Linked DNA regions of Homo sapiens: region 1 is linked to region 2. The links come from fine-mapping of genetic effects on gene expression. Tissue or cell type: whole blood. Region 2 holds a variant in brackets; the other region holds the start of a gene. All regions are shown on one strand. Distances are from middle to middle.

Region 1 (8,140 bases), 24 kb before region 2:
CAAGACCGCTGAGTGGGTCAAATGGTGCATGCAAAGTATCTGCATGCTGGGAAGTACTGTACATGTATTAGTTATCAATGTTACCCTCAGATACCGCCAAAACTGCACCTGTCGCACACGTATCTCCTACAGACCTTTTAAGGGCACTCAGATACTCAGCAAAGCCCTCATTCTCCTTCACGTCCTCTCTGCTCCAAAAAGCCTGTGCCAAGGACAAGCCAGACGAATGAGCTGTGCCAGGGGTTGTTGGCAAGATGCCTACAGGCCTCTTCCCCACGAATGCCCGCTTTTTAGCTCTAACCTTCCCTAGGTTAATGAATCCTATCTCTTAGACCTTCTGCTCCACGGGCCATTCAAATTTGGAGGCCCTTAGGAAACAACAACATAACGGGGTCCCAGTCCAGGCAAATTACTGTCACCTCTGTTAGGCTGGCTTCTCTGGAACTCGTCTAATCGGACTATCCCCGCCCCCCAATCTTCCCCCAGATCCCCTCTTCCTCTCCCTCCAAGCCTCCCTAGCCCAGCCTCCTTATTTTCCTTCTTCGCCTTCTGAACACACACTGGATGCCTTCTCTGGGCCAGACACTGGGCTGGGCGCAGTGCGCTGTGCAGAGAACAGGACCAGGGCCCGGCCCTCCGAGAGCTGCCCCCGCCCGCCCTCGCGGCCCTGGCCCCAGCCCGCCCCTCACCGCAGCAGGTCCTGCAGCACCGTGGCCAGCCCCAGCGGGACGCTCCCCTTGCGCTGAAAGGCCTCCTGCAAGTCCCGCAGACGCAGGCGCACCACCCCCTGGCGGCGGCTGTGGCTCAGCACCAACGGCGCCCAGAAGCCCATCTTGCTGTCCCAGTCGGTGCTGTTCACCTCGCGACTCCTCTTGAAAGCGGAGAACAGGAAGGACATGCGCTCCTCGTCCTCCTCCCACTCGGGGGGCAGAAGGCCCGCCGGGTCTCCCCCGGCTGGGGCCTCGGCCTCCCGCTCCGGGGACCACATCGGAACCCCAGCCCCGGCAAGGCTGCGAACACAAGCCTGGCCCTGGTCCGCTTCCGCCCTCGTTCCCTCCCGGCTTCCGTTCCTTGACCACCTCCTTCTCGTTCACACGTCACCGCCGCCCTGAGCGTGAAATAAGTTCCATAAGTCTTCAAGGCGCATGCGTTGCGCTGCGCTCCGTCAGCCAGGAGGCAGTATGATGAAGTTCTTTTCAGAGAGACACCGAGCGCTTGCGCCGACCCCTCCTCCCACGGTCTTTGTGCCGAAAGAAAGGCTTGCGCCTGCGCGGCAGGTGGCTGCACCTTACGTCTCCTTCAAGATTCTGGAGTTCGGCAAAGCGTTGTACAGCGGCTTCTGACCTGTGGCTTCAGAAAATGGAACTGGGGAATAGCCGCAGAGGGGCGCCAGTGGTGCCCGGACCACCCGGATGGATCCGTGAATCTCTGTATAGAGGGAAATTTATATCAATGAATGCACAAACCAGAAAAGAAGAAAGATCTAAAATAACCTAAGATTCCACCTTGGGAATCTATAAAAGAAGAACAAATTAAGATCAAATTAAACAGAAGAGAAAAAATAATAAAAAGAGCAGAAATCAATGAAATTGAAAACAAACTCAAAAGATTATCAACAAAACCTAAAGCTGATTTTTTGAAAAGGTCAATGAAATTGATTAACCTCTAGCCTGGCTAACAAAGAGAAAAAACAAATACTCAATATCAGAAATGAAATAAGGGACATTACTGCAGATCCCATGGGCATGAAAATGATAATAAAGGAATACTATGAATAACTGTATGTCCACAAATTTGATAACCTAGACGAAATGGACACATTTCTTGAAAGCACACTCTGCCAAAACACACAAGAGGAAACAGACCACTTGAATATGTTTATATCTAATTAATTGAATCAATAATTAACAACATCCACACAGAAAGCATTAGGCCCAGATGGTTTCATTTGATAAGTTCTACCAAATATTTAAGAAAAAAGTTGTACCAGTTCTGTGCCATCTCTTTTATAAGATAGAAACAAAAGGAATACTTCCCAACTGATCCTATGAGGCAAGGATTACCCTAACGCCAAAACCACACAAAGACATTACAAGAAAGAAAAAACACAAAACAATATATCTTGTGAATATAGATGCAAAAATCATCAATAGAATGTTAGCAAATTGAAACCCACAATGTATCAAAAGAATTGTACACCAGGTTAAAGCGGAATTTATTACAGCTAGGCAAGGCTAGTTCAATGTTCAAAAATCAATTAATATAATCCACCAACAGACTAAAGAAAAATCATATGATCATATTGCTAGATGCAGAAAAAGCATTTGACAAAATCCAACACCAGCTCATGATAAAAAGTCTCGGCACTCTAGGAATAGAGGGACACATCCTCCACTTGATAAAGAACATAAACAGGAACCTTACAGCCAACATAAGAATTAATGGTGAAAACCTAGATCGTTTTCCAGTGGAATCAGGAATAACACAAGAATGTCTGCTCACACCATTCCTAGTCAACACTGTACGGGAAATCCTAGCTAACACAGTTAGCCAAGAAAAAGAAATAAAAGTTGTACAGACTGAAGAGGAAGAAATAAAATGGTCTGTCTTTATAGAAGACATAATTATCCATGCAGAAAATTATGAAAGAATTGCCAAATCGATGTCCTGGAACTAAGAGGCAATGAGAACAAGATTGCAGATACAAAGTTAATGTATAAAAGTCAATTCCCATATACCTATAATGATCAAGTGGAATATGAAATTAAAAATGCAATACCATTTACATTAGCACCCCCCTATAAAACTTAGGTATAAATCTAACACGGTATGTACAAATTCTACATAAGGAAAACTACAAAATTCTGATGAAAGAAATCTATGAAGGACTAAATAAATACAGAGGCATTTTATATTCATGGACAGGAAAACTCAATATTATCAAGATATCAATTCTTCCCAAATTGATCTGTAGATCCAGTGAAATCCCAGTGAAAATCATGGCTAGTTATTTTGTGGATATCAACAAACTAATTCTAAAGTTTATGTGGAAAGGCAAAAGACCCAGAAGAGCCAACACAATATTGAACAAATAAGTCAGAGGACGGATACAACCCAACTTCAAGAATTACTATAAATCAACAGTAATCAAGATAGTGTGGTATTAGTTAAAGAATAAACAAATAGATAAATGGAACAGAATAGGAATCCCAGAAATAGGCACATGTAAATACAGTCAACTGACCTTTCGAAAAAAGAAAGGCAATACAATGGTTCAAAGAGTCTTTTCAACAATGAGCACTGGAACAACTGTACACCTACATGCAAAAACAAAAACAAATCCAGGTACAGATCTTACACCATTCACAAAAGCCAGCTCAAATGGATCATGGACTTAAATGTAAAAACACAAAACAATAAAACTCCTAGAAGACAAAACATCTAGATGACCTTGGGCATCATGATTACTTTTTAGATACAACACAAAAAGCATAATCCATGAAAGAAATAATTGATAAATTAGACGTAATTATTATTATTATTATTATTTGCTTTCTGAAAGACACTGTGAAGAGAATGTGAAGATAAGCCACAGACTGGTAGAAACTATTTGCAAAAGACATCTCTGATAAAGGACTGTTATCCAAAACACACGAGGAACTCTTAAGACTCAAAAAAAAAAGAAAAAGAATAACCCAGTTAAAACATGGATAAAAGATCTGAGCAGACCTCTCACCAAAGAAGATCTACCAACGGCAAATAAGTATATGATAATATGCCCAACATCATATGTCATTGGGGAACAGCAAATTAGACAAGAATAGCATACTACTACACACCTATTAGAATGGTGAAAATCCAAAATACTGACCACACCAAATGCTGGTGAGGATGCAGAGCAACAGGAACTCTCATTCATTGCTGGTGGAAATGCAAACTGGTACAGCTACCGTAAGGTTGGCCAAGAGAAAAGACGAGTATACTCAAAGTCAGGCAAGCAAGTTTATTGACCTGCCGGCCTGCTGCATAACAGTCAGAGGAGGCAGCCCAGGGTGTTTAAGGTGAGGGACTTATATAGGGCTTTGAGGGCCTAGGGGCTTTCTGAGGTTAGTCTACATCCTGCAGTTGTTTGTCACTTCTTGCCCCACCTGGCTTAGAGTACCAGGATGTGGTTTGGCCTGGGGGTGGATACAGCTGTACCTAAGTTCTGGTAACGTGAAGTAGGGGCAGCATCTCAGAAGAAATAAGCTGCAGGGCATTTAGGGGAGGGGGCTTGCTGCGTTCTTCTGTGGACAGGTTGTCTCTAAGAGCTACTTTGGAAGACAGTTTGGTCGTTTTTCACAAAATTAAACATTCTCTTCCCATGCAAGTTTACTTATAGTTTAACTTTGAAACAAAGTATAACAGTCCTTTCCCAAAACAAAACTCCTTACTGCCTGTGGACTAGACTGCCTAGACTGCCACAAGATTAGAAGTTATGGTAATTTTACTAAATCAAGATGTAGCTATTTTCATTAAACCAGTATCAATGTCTTATTTATTAATGGTTACACGAGCAGAGATCATTCTGTCTTGGGCTGGGTTTATAGCCTGTGCCAAATTTTGACACCTAATAGTATTTGGCAGGGTTAAGTATGAAATTGCTTGATTAATAAACGCAAATAAAAATGTATGCTGGCAATTCCTAAGACATTTCTAATATTACTTTACCAATAATTTTAAAGATAGCTTATTTATTAAAGATTTTACTTAAGTCACATAACTTGAAAAAGCATTTGACTAGTCTTTCCTTTTTCTAATAAAGTATTTGATGTAAATGCTTTTATTTTTTAAGACAATTAATTAGAGCTCTTTGATATATTTTCAGGAGTGCAACATTGTATACATAACATATAAATACATAGATGTATTAGGCATGCTGATAGAAGAAGTACATCTTACAGATTCATAAAAACCTTTTTTCTTTATCTTAGACTTTCAGATTCTTGATAACCTGTTTCACAGTGCTAGGCAGTAGTCAGCTAAATAGTCTTAAATTTGCATATTAAAGGAAACAACTCAGGTGAAAGTCAGATAGCAAAATTTACATTATAAGGTCTGAAGAGAAATTCTGTGAGCTAGAGGGAAATTAAAACAGATTTAATTGCCAATTGAACATAAAATTATAGAAATTTATCACTGGATTGTATAAGGAGACCACTGTTATTTAGATAGGGACTACCAATTCTTTTTTAACTGGATCTCTGAGCTCTGGGCAGAGCCCACACTGAATCCTGGGTCTCCAAAAAGGGAGAATTATTATGAGGCTAGACCACATGATGCTTTTACAGTGCACTTAAAACATTTTTGTAAACAAAGCATTTCTAAGTGTCTAAACTATACTCTTTCTTAAAAACCCAAGAGTAGCCTCTGTTGCAATAACTATTTTAGTAAAAAAAAAAAAAAAAATCGAGTGGAAACAGAATTGAGTCAATTGAGAACAAAAAAAGTTTTTGCTCAAAAAAAGACAAGGTCCTAGCAGAGAAAAACAAAAACAAAACCATGAAGGCCTTTTAAATATGAACATGCACTTATGCACACATACACATACACATACATTTTAAATATTAGCTTTTAATTAAGTTGACTTTTAACTATTGAGTGTCTTTAAAAATAAAAAATCTTGGGCTGGGTGCAGTGGCTCATGCCTGTAATCCCAGGACTTTGGGAGGCCCAGGCGGGCGGATCATGAGGTCAGGAGATGGAGACCATCCTGGCTAACATGGTGAAACCCCGTCTCCACTAAAAATACAAAAATTAGCCGAGTGTGGTGGCACGCGCCTGTAGTCCCAGCTACTCAGGAGGCTGAGGCAGGAGAATCGCTTGAACCCGGGAGGCAGAGTTTGCAGTGAGCCAAGATCGTGCCACTGCACTCCAGCCTGGCGACAGAGCAAGACTCTGTCTCAAAAAAAAAAAATTCAAAATTTTATTATTATATTTCAGCTAGGACAAATTGCTGCTATTTCAGAAGTACCAAGTATTGGTCCGGCGCGGTGGCTCACACCTGTAATCCCAGCACTTTGGGAGGCCGACGCTGGTGGATCACCTGAGCTCAGGAGTTCGAGACCAGCTTGACCAACATGGAGAAACCCCATCTCTACTAAGAAATTCAAAAGGCACATGCCTATAATCCCAGCTACTCGGGAGGCTGAGGCAGGAGAATTGCTTGAACCCGGGAGGCGGAGGTTACGGTGAGCTGAGACCACGCCATTGGACTCCAGCCTGGGCAACAAGAACGGAACTCTGTCTCAAAAAAAAAAAAAAAAAAAAAAAAAAAGCAGAAGTACCAACTATCAAACCAGAAAGGACTTGATTTAGGAACCAAACTTAGGCTGTCATGAAGACAGGAGAAAAAAAAAGGCAGAACCTTAGCTATTGAACTGCAGAGTAGGGGGACAGCCATTGCTTTCAGTTTGGCCTGGTTAGCAAAAAGGAGGCTTTGTTATGTAAATAAAACCCCTTAAGTAATAAAAATAAAACATTTTTCTTGCCGGCCGGGTGCGGTGGCTCAAGCCAGTAATCCCAGCACTTTGGGAGGCCGAGGCAGGCAGATCACCAGGTCAGGAGATCCAGACCATCCTGGCTAACACGGTGAAACCCCGTCTCTACCAAAAAATACAAAAAAATTAGCCAGGCGTAGTGGCGGGTGCCTTAGTCCCAGCTACTCGGGAGGCTGAGGCAGGAGAATGGCGTGAACCCGGGAGGCAGAGCTTGCAGTGAGCCGAGATCGCGCCACTGCACTCCAGCCCGGGCGACAGAGAGCGACTCCGTCTCAAAAAAAAAAAAAAAAGTTTTTATTTATTTTTTTTCTTTTGTTGGCCGTTTTTCTCCCCTCACTATACCACCTTTTTTTGTGTATGGGAATTTAGCCACTTTAGAGGCCTTGTTCCTCATAATTTGGAACTTTCCTTCGGATTTGATTGAGTTGGACAGAGTTGGTCAAACCCAACGGGAGAAAGACTGAAACAACAAAAACAGAAACAAATAAACATCAACAACAACAAAAAAGTTAAGCAAAACAAACAATCTCACAACTTAACATAATTCCTGAGCACTGTAATGGTAAGGAGAAATAAAGACCAGCTGGTTTTTAATCTTAACTTTAGCCAAGATAAACCCCAATTCAGTTGCTTATCTAGGAATGGATCTCAGGCTGTAGACCACTCTCTACCATCCTAGAAGCAGAAAAACAAACAAAACAACAACAACAACAACAACAACAACAACAAACTCACCTTCCCTGTTGGAAGTGAGCTCAAACTCCATAAAGGAGTTACCTATCTTCCATCATCATGGAAGCAGGAAAACTTGCCTTTCTTGTTGGAAGCAAGTAAAACTCCAAAAAAAAAAAGTTGTATAGCAAAATAAACTTTAGATTTCAACCAAATTTGGGAAGATAGTAATTCTCTTGGTGGGGCGGAGGGGTGAGGGGTGGGTTGCTCTCAGACCTCAGCAAATTGTCCCATAGGTTTGAGCCATAAAGTAAGCTCATGCTGGTACCAAGCACCAATAGGTGCTTGTCAAATCTAGCTTGTCAGAGGCTAGATTTGTCAGAGGTGGGGAGCATTCCACTCAGAATCCCTTTATGGTTATTAAATATGGGCCCAGAATATCTGAGACGGGTCTCAGTTAATTTAGAAAGTTTATTTTGCTGGCCGGGCGCGGTGGCTCACGCCTGTAATCCCAGCACTTTGGGAGGCCAAGGTGGGCAGATCACCAGGTCAGGAGATCGAGACCATCCTGGCTAAGACGGTGAAACCACGTCTCTACTAAAAATACAAAAAATTAGCCGGGCATGGTGGCAGGTGCCTGTAGTCCCAGCTACTCGGGAGGCTGAGGCAGGAGAATGGCGTGAACCTGGGAGGCAGAGCTTGCAGTGAGCGGAGATCACATCACTGCACTCCAGCCTGGGCAACAGAGCAAGACTCCATCTCAAAAAAAAAAAAAAAAAGGTTTATTTTGCCAAGCTGAAGACGTGTGCTCATGACACAGACTCAGGAAGGCCTGAGGACATGTGCCCAAGGAGGTCAGGGCACAGCTTTGTTTTACACATTTTAGGGAGACATGAGATATCAATCAATATATGTAAGAAGTACATTGG
Region 2 (8,191 bases):
CCTGCCTCAGCCTCCCGAGTAGCTGGGAGTACAGGCTCCTGCCACCACGCCCGGCTAATTTTTTGTATTTTTAGTAGTCACGGGGTTTCACTGTGTTAGCCAAATCCGCCCGCCTCGGCCTCCCAAAGTGCTGGGATTACAGGCGTGAGCCACCGCGCCCGGCCCTCCATCCTTCTTTTCTTAGACAAATTGGTTAAACACGCAGCCCGGCAGGAAAAAGTAACTTTCTCTCCTCTGCTCGTTGTCTTCCGTTTCGAGTCCACTGAGCACACCGGCAGCAGTTTCCTTCCAGCCACTTTCTTGCGCATCAACAGGTACAGGGCAGCGAATTGACCACCACGAGGCAGGCAGCCAGGAGCGGGGCACGCCCTTCCTTCAGGAGGCAGCGTTTCCTGTGAAAGCAATCACTCAGTCTGGAAAAATGCCAATGCCTTCAGTTCTCTTTCAAGTTCATTAAGGCTCTACCAATTGTTCTCATCCAGATTCCTTCTATGTTAAGGAAAAACAAAACGAAAGCTAAGTACCTGAAGGATAAACCAGTCTTACAAGTGTCAGGAAATTTTACGTGTTTTTGTTTAACAAACTAAACAAAATCCAGGAATCCAATAGCATTTTGAAATCTCCAAATAATTACAGAATTTATGTTTTAAACGTCAGTTTATGTTAGGTGGAACCCACGTTTGACTCTTATTTTTAATACGCTTATTAAATGGCTTTCTTTTTGACAGGCTAGTGCGATTCCAGGTGGATGTAGGGCTCACCTGTATAGACAAGGTGAAACATCTGAATTTGGTGGTTTTGGAAATGTCACAGTCCGTTGGTGTGGCTATAAAAGAATACTTGAGGCCAGGCGCGGTGGCTCACGCCTGTAATCCCAGCACTCTGGGAGGCCGAGGCGGGCGGATCACGAGGTCAGGAGATCGAGACGATCCTGGCCAACACGGTGAAACCCCGTCTCTATTAAAAATACAAAAAATTAGCCAGGCGTGGTGGTGGCCGCCTGTAGTCCCAGCTACTCGGGAGGCTGAGGCGGGAGAATGGCGTGAACCTGGGAGGCGGAGCTTCCAGTGAGCCGAGACCACGCCACTGCACTCCAGCCTGGGCGACAGAGGGAGACTCCGTTTCGGAAAAGAAAAAAAATAAAAAAGAAAACTTGACGCTGGATAATTTTAAAAGAGGCTTATTTGGCACATGGTTCTGCAGGCTGTACAAGAAGCATGCCACCAGCATCTGCCTCTGGTGAGGCCTCAGGAAACTTCCACTGGTGGTGAAGGGGAAGGACAGCTGGATTCTGCCCATCAGGGGAAGGGGTGGGGAGGATGGCAGGAGGAGGGGGATGAGATCCGGAAGGGAGACGGGGAGGGGCCAGGTTCATTCTAACAACCAGGTGTCATGGGGAACTAAGATTGACAACTCCTGGGGGAATGTGGGAGGGGGCGGTTATGGCACCAAGCCTTTCATGAGGGATCCACCCCAAACCCCAACAGGCCCCACCAGCTACATTACGGTTCAGATTTCAACGTGAGCCCTGGCAGGGACAAAGGACCCGTAGCAGACACCAAGGCCTTCTGCCATCCCACAGGACCCTCTCATCCCACCATCCCTCAGCCTTCTTCCTGTGCATTTATAGGCACCTTAACTTTTAAAATTCTGACTGAAGAACAAATCGCATTGGATGTTTTCTATCAGTACATGCAAGTATCTCATTCTTTTTAACAGCATCATAATATTTAGTGCATGGGTGAAACACATGGCGTGAACCACAGTTAATTTTAATCTTCCATCCCATGGGCAATTGTTAACATTATGTCCTGCTTTTGTTTTTTCTAATTCCAGCAGCATTGTAGTGAGAACCCTTGTATGTGTCATATGTCCATATGTCAATGTTCCCTGAAGTATCGGGCAGCCCTTTAGAAGAGGAATTTTTAGGTACATGAGCTCATCAATGTAGAATTTTGTTTGGATATTGCTAAATTGTACTTCGGGAGAAGATTGTGCCAGTTTTACTCTCACACCAAGAATACAAAAGTGTGGCCGGGTGCGGTGGCTAACGCCTGTAATCCCAGCACTTTGGGAGGCCGAGACAGGTGGATCACGAGGTCAGGAGATCCAGACCATCCTGGCTAACACGGTGAAACCCCGTCTCTACTAAAAATTGAAAAAAATTAGCCAGGCACGGTGGCGGGCGCCTGTAGTCCCAGCTACTCGGGAGGCTGAGGCAGGAGAATGGCGTGAACCCGGGAGGCAGAGCTTGCAGTGAGCCGAGATCTCGCCACTGCACTCCAGCCTGGGCGACTGAGCGAGACTCCGTTTCAAGAAAAAAAAAAAAGAATACACAAGCGTGCCCGTGTCCCTGCACCCTTACTACATGGAACTTTCATTCTTTGCTACTCTAAGAGGTAAAAAATGATAGACCTCAATGTTGTATTTTTTGTTTCAGTGTTATTAGAGATTTTCAAGGATCCAGGAATTTTTTGAGACTGGGAGTAGATGACCTAGAGACTCCAGATTAGACCGTTGGGGAGGGAGCAGGGAAGACTGCAGTCGCACCTCTGCACTTAGGAAACTGTGGTCGGCTGGGGCCAGTTCCTGCCACCCGCCATGCCTGTGAATGGAGATAATGTCTCTGTCCTCAGACTGTCAGGATGACATCAGATGAGCCTGGAGCTGAGCTCAGTTTCTCACCCCAGGTCCTGGCTCTGTCAATGCTGGACTGGCCCAATCTCTGTGCCAGGTCCTTCCACCTCGTCTCGTCTCTCTCTTTATCAAAGTAGGAAATGAGAAATTCTGATGGCTCTGAAGCTTAGACACTCAGGCTATCAGAGCCCAGAGATTGGAGGCTGAAGACAGCCAGGGTTGGCCGTGCTCCTCTTCAGCTCTGTGACTCTGCTGTGGCCCCAGCTCCTTCCTATAAACTAGGTGGATATAAAAGTCTGCAGCGGCCCTGTGTAAACCACAGTGGTCTGTGTTGGCAGATGTGTGCTGTCGTGTGGGAGGACAAATCACATGCTCAGGGCTGGTGTCAGTCACTCAGGACTCTGGATCCCCAGAGCACCTGTCCTCTACCCAGCAGAGGCTGCACCTGCTCCCACCTGCACCTCCATACTGGCTCTCTGAGCTTGGGGCAGAAGGTTCTAAGGAATGGGGTGGAGCGCCATGGGGAGGGGCCGTGGAGGAACAGAGGAGCCAGACTTCAAGTTAGGACAAAGATGTCACTGCAGGGCCACAGCCTGGCTTACCTGCCACGTTTCCTTCCAGTTGTCCTTCTGGTGGGCACCCGGCACTGGTTGCAGTTTGAAGAGTGAGCAGGAAAGGTCTCCATCCATGTGGCTGCAGATGGCTGCTCACCCAGCCCCTACTGAGAGGCAACAGTCCCAGTTCTGGTCCTCTGTCCTGTATCCAGGAGTGACAGGGCAGCAAGGCTTTAGCTTCCAGGTCGGAGATGGGGACAGTGCCATGCCCTGAGCCTGTGCTGTTGGGCAGTTGGTGTCACTTAGTCTGGAAAAATGCCAGTGCCTTCAGTTCTCTTTCAAGTTCATTAGGACAGGTGCCCTGGGGATCCAGAGTCATGAGTGACTGACACCAGCCCTGAGCATGTGATTTGTCCTCCTACACGGCAGCACACATCTGCCAACACAGACCACTGTGGTTTATAAAGGGCCGCTGCAGATTTTATATCTGCCTAGTTTATAGGAAGGAGCTGGGGCCACAGCAGAGTCACAGCTGAAGAGGAGCACGGCCAACCCTGGCAGTCTTCAGCCTCCAATCTCTGGGCTCTTTGATAGCCTGAGTGTCTAAGCTTCAGAGCCTTCAGAATTTCTCAATTTCTACTTTGCTAAAGAGAGAGGTGAGGTGGAAGGACCTGGCATAGAGATTGGGCCAGCCCAGCCAGAGACTGCACATCTTCATTCAGGGTATTTTCCTAACCCAGGGATGTGGGGATTGTTGCTCTCATTTTGTCTGGGGAGAAAATGAGATTTAGGAGGAGGAAGTCCCCAGCATTTGGGACCTGGCCTGCTTGATAATAGCAGCTGCCTGTTGGACTGGGAAGGGCCTCTTCCGGATTCCCAGGCAGGTATCTGTGATAATGGGGAAAGGAGAAAGGGTCTGCTTTGTAGGGAAGAGCAGGGTGCACTCGGCACCTCAGACACTCGCCTGTGGCCAGGAGGGGATGTGAATCATCACATTTTACAGAGGAGAGGACCAAAGCTCAGAGAGGGAAAGTGTGTGCAGCTCAGAGGGGGAACGTGTGTGCACCTGGCCACAGGCAAGTCTGTCCAGAGCACTGGTAGGAATGAGAGAAACTAGGAATGACCACTTTAAAAACTTAGATGAAGAGAATCTCAAAGTTAAGTCATTGGAGTTTGTTGGTAATATATTTGTGTGGCTTAGGTCATGTTAAGTGCATCACACCCTCGCCCCCATGTCTGCTGTTGGTCTCAGCACTGGGTGGAGGGAGCGGGGACAGTCCTGATGAAGAGGAGAGGGGAGCAGCACCGGCTGGGGTGGGGCCTCTGCCGCTGCCTCTTCCTGTGTGGTTTTTCAGGGCTTAGGCTGC[G/C]CCTCTCACCTGGCTTGTCTGTGGGGAGGAGATCTTTGTTCTCTGGCTGCTTTTAAGATTTTCTCCTTAACAGTGTGGTTTCAGCACTTCGATGGTGGCAAAAATAATCTGCCGGAGCCATGTCTGTAGCATTTTTGGTCTCCCCTTCTGTATAATAGCAGCCGTGTTTTGGCTTCTGCAGGGCTAAAGTCCTCTGAGCAGCTGCTTCTCCACATCTCTGCCCTGCACTTGGCCTCTGGGAGCTCCTAGGGTTCCTTAGCAGAGTCCACAGGACTCTTCGGGGTCCCATCCCTGTGCTGTAGCCTGGAACCTGTGACCTGAGGCGGTGAGCTGAGGCCACCACTGGGCTCACCTCATGGGCTTGGAGGGAAAGTCACTCACCCAGGAAGTAGGTGATGAGCACTTTACTCTGAGAATGTCTGCGCCTGGTGGTGGTGGGAGGACAAATGAGCCCTGTGTCAGTCCTGCTCCCTGAAGCCCACAGTCTGGTGGAGGAGGTGTCACTAGGGACCTAAATAACTATCAGGAAGCATGGGGGCCACCTCCCCCACCCCCCACCTCCAGAGAGGCTGTGCCGGCTCCAGGGATGCCATCCCTCCCTACTTGACTCCAGCAGTTGCAAGGCCCCAGGTCATGGTATTGGTGGCTTAGAGGATGTGGTTTCATTAAAATCAACATTGAGGGGAATGATTGTACTAACAACAGCATGTGCTGAAATACAGTACTTGCGTGTGCCAAGCTCTGTTCTTAGCACTTCATATGTAAATGAACACACTTAATCCTCATACAACCAGACTGTACAGGAACCCTCATTGTCTTTGTTTTAGACAAACAGCATGAGACTCAGAACATTTGTTCAGTAGAGGGGCTGGGCAGGAGGATGAGCAACCCTCGGGGCAGCAGCAGTGATTGGGTCACTGGGTTCTGCTGACCTTTCCCAGGGGAGTATTTGGTGCTTTTTCATGAGGCCTGCATTCACCCAGCGCTGGGTCACTGCTGGGGGTACCTGAGAAGTCATGTAAAGCCACCTCTTATTTCCAGAATGATAGACATGTTTAGAGAAGAAGTGGCTTCCCCCAGACCATGAGGCTGGCCCGAGACTACAAGACAGATGGCTTGCTTCTTAACCCAGGGGTCTTTTTATACCAAAAGAACAAAGAAATAAAAAAGCCACGAAAGACTCAAAGGAAGCAGATTTTCGACCACAGCCAACCTCAGAACAATTCTGAGTTGCTCATTTTAAGATCAATAAGGCATTTTTTTAGGGTGTGTATGCCTGAGAGAGGAAATCAGTGTGAATATCAAACTTACCTCTGAAACAGCCTAACACAATGCTAATCCGAGAGGAACAAGGCAAGGAAACCCCCTGGTGAATGACTCATCTCAGGAAGAGGCAGGGCAGGGTCAGGAGAGTCTATGGAGGAGAAGACCTGGAACAAGACCTCTCTCTCTTGCTCTCTTTCTCTCTCTCCCTCTCTCTCTCTCACACACACAAACACACACACAACCTCACACCCCCATGAGCCCAAATCTGTGAACTGAGAACCTCACTTCTCTGACCTCACCTTCCATCTCCCTTAATCAGACGCCCACAAACCTCAGAGTTGTGTCCCAGCATCACTTGTTTTGACTGCCCTCCCCGACTGCCTTGACTTCGTATCTGCCTAGGAACCTGCCTGTGTGGACTTTTCCCTCTATGTGGACCTTTCCCTCTATGTCTACCGGTGTCCCTGCCACCAGTGGCATTTGTCACCTCTGCCTGGGCAGCCCCTCGTGACTCGGGTTATTGATGGCTGTGCCTCATCTCCCTGGGAACTGGAACTGTCCTAAGGAAAGGGAGGGTCGTGCCTTTTTCTTGATACCCCACGATTCCTTGCACAGCGTTTCTACCAGGCGCCGACATGCCCTCCTTGGATGAATGAGTAACATGGGTTCTAGGAAGCCCGCACCAATGCAGATGTGACGTCCTCAGCCTTTCATAGACATGTTTCATGTGAGAGGTGGGAAGAACAGCTGAACAGAAGGCTGAGCACTGTCCAGGTCCAGAGTCACCAGGAGCTCGTTGTCAGGTTTTCACTTGCTATTAGTAGAGATTTTTTTTTAAGGTACTATTTTTAGTGTTAGAAGTGAATTCAGGCCGGGCGCAGTGGCTCACCCCTGTAATCCCAGCACTTCGGGAGGCTGAGGTGGGCAGATCACGAGGTCAAGGAGATCGAGACCATCCTGACCAACATGGTGAAACCCCATCTCTACTAAAAATACAAAAATTAGCTGGGTGTGGTGGCATTTGCCTGTAATCTCAGCTACTGGGGAGGGCTGAGGCAGGAGAATCACTTGAACCAGGGATTCGGAGGTTGCAGTGAGCAGAGATTGTGCCACTGCACTCCAGCCTGGCAACAGAGCAAGACTCCGTCTCAAAAAAGAAAAAAAAAATGAATTCATCAGAAGGCATAATAATCATAAATGTGTATATGTCTAATAGTAGAGCTTTAAAATAAATGAAGCAACGCTCAAAAGGATTAAAGGGAGATCATGTCACCCCCTTCTCAGCAACTGATAGAACGATCAGATGAAAACAGTAAAATAACAGATCTGAACATTGTCAACCACCTTGACTTAACTGACATTTATAGAGCATATATGCAACATCTATGGGAGATTCCTTCTCTTCTATGAACATGGTACTTCACCAAGATAGACCACATTGTGAACTATAAAACAAATCTAAATACATTTAAAACAAAATAATATAAAATATGTTCTCTGATCTCAATGAAATTAAAGTGTTAAGCAATAACAATATCTAGAAGGACTCCAAAAATGTGAATATTAAGCAACATACTTATAAATAACTCATAGTTCACGAATGAAATCAAAGAGAATTCAAAATATTTCTTTTTTTTTTTTTTGAATTGGCTTCTTGCTCTGTCGCCTAGGCTGGAATGCAGTGGCGTGATCCCGGTTCACTGCAACCTCTGCCTCCCGGGTTCAAGTGATTCTCCTGTCTCAGCCTCCCGAGTAGCTGGGACTATAGGCACCTGCCAGCACGCCCGGCTCATTTTTGTATTTTTAGTACAGATAGGGTTTCACCATGTTGCACAGGCTGGTCTTGAACTCCTGACCTCGTGATCCACCCACCTCGGCCTCCCAAAGTGCTGGGATTACAGGCGTGAGCCACCGTGCCTGGCCTGGAGTTTCTTTTGGGGATGATGATGAAAATCTTCAAAAATTGATTTTATTGATGGTTATACACTTCTATAAATATATTTAAAGGAAAGAATTACATCATATATAAAGTATATCTCAGTAAAGTTCTTAAGGATTAAAAGAAGAATGGTATCAAAATCAATGACTCAGAGGTGTGCATTACTTACCCGTAAAATAAGTATAAATTAAACTCAAAGGTAGTAACAACATGACAAGGAAATAATAAGACTGAAATCAATGAAATAGAATTCAAACAATAAAAGGAATCAACAAGCTAAGAGTTGGTTCTCAGAAATGATCAACAAAATTAATAAAAGTAATAAACTGGCCGGACGAGATGGCTCATCCCTGTAATCCCAGCACTTTGGGAGGCCGAGGCAGGCGATTCACCTGAGGTCTGGAGTTTGAGACCAGCCGGACCAACAT

The links. PIP is the estimated chance that this variant, and not a neighbour inherited with it, causes the effect.
Region 1: CHMP7 starts here. The variant in region 2 is fine-mapped to the expression of CHMP7 in whole blood (TOPMed, PIP above 0.99).

Annotation. Positions count from the first base shown.
Region 1 is chr8:23,239,544-23,247,683 of GRCh38, reverse strand. CHMP7 (charged multivesicular body protein 7) reads right to left here and starts at 4,047. Exons shown (of 11, transcript NM_152272.5): 1 at 3,840-4,047; 2 at 690-1,428. The coding sequence starts at 988. RefSeq lists enhancers at 182-231, 1,035-1,284, 3,854-4,355 and a silencer at 505-1,014.
Region 2 is chr8:23,216,018-23,224,208 of GRCh38, reverse strand. The region is part of intron 1 of TNFRSF10A (TNF receptor superfamily member 10a); the gene reads left to right. Among named protein-coding and RNA genes, the nearest start is that of TNFRSF10A, 5.0 kb to the left of the region's middle. RefSeq lists enhancers at 4,450-4,509, 4,690-4,759, 5,790-5,989. The variant G/C (reference allele first, on the strand shown) is at 4,559.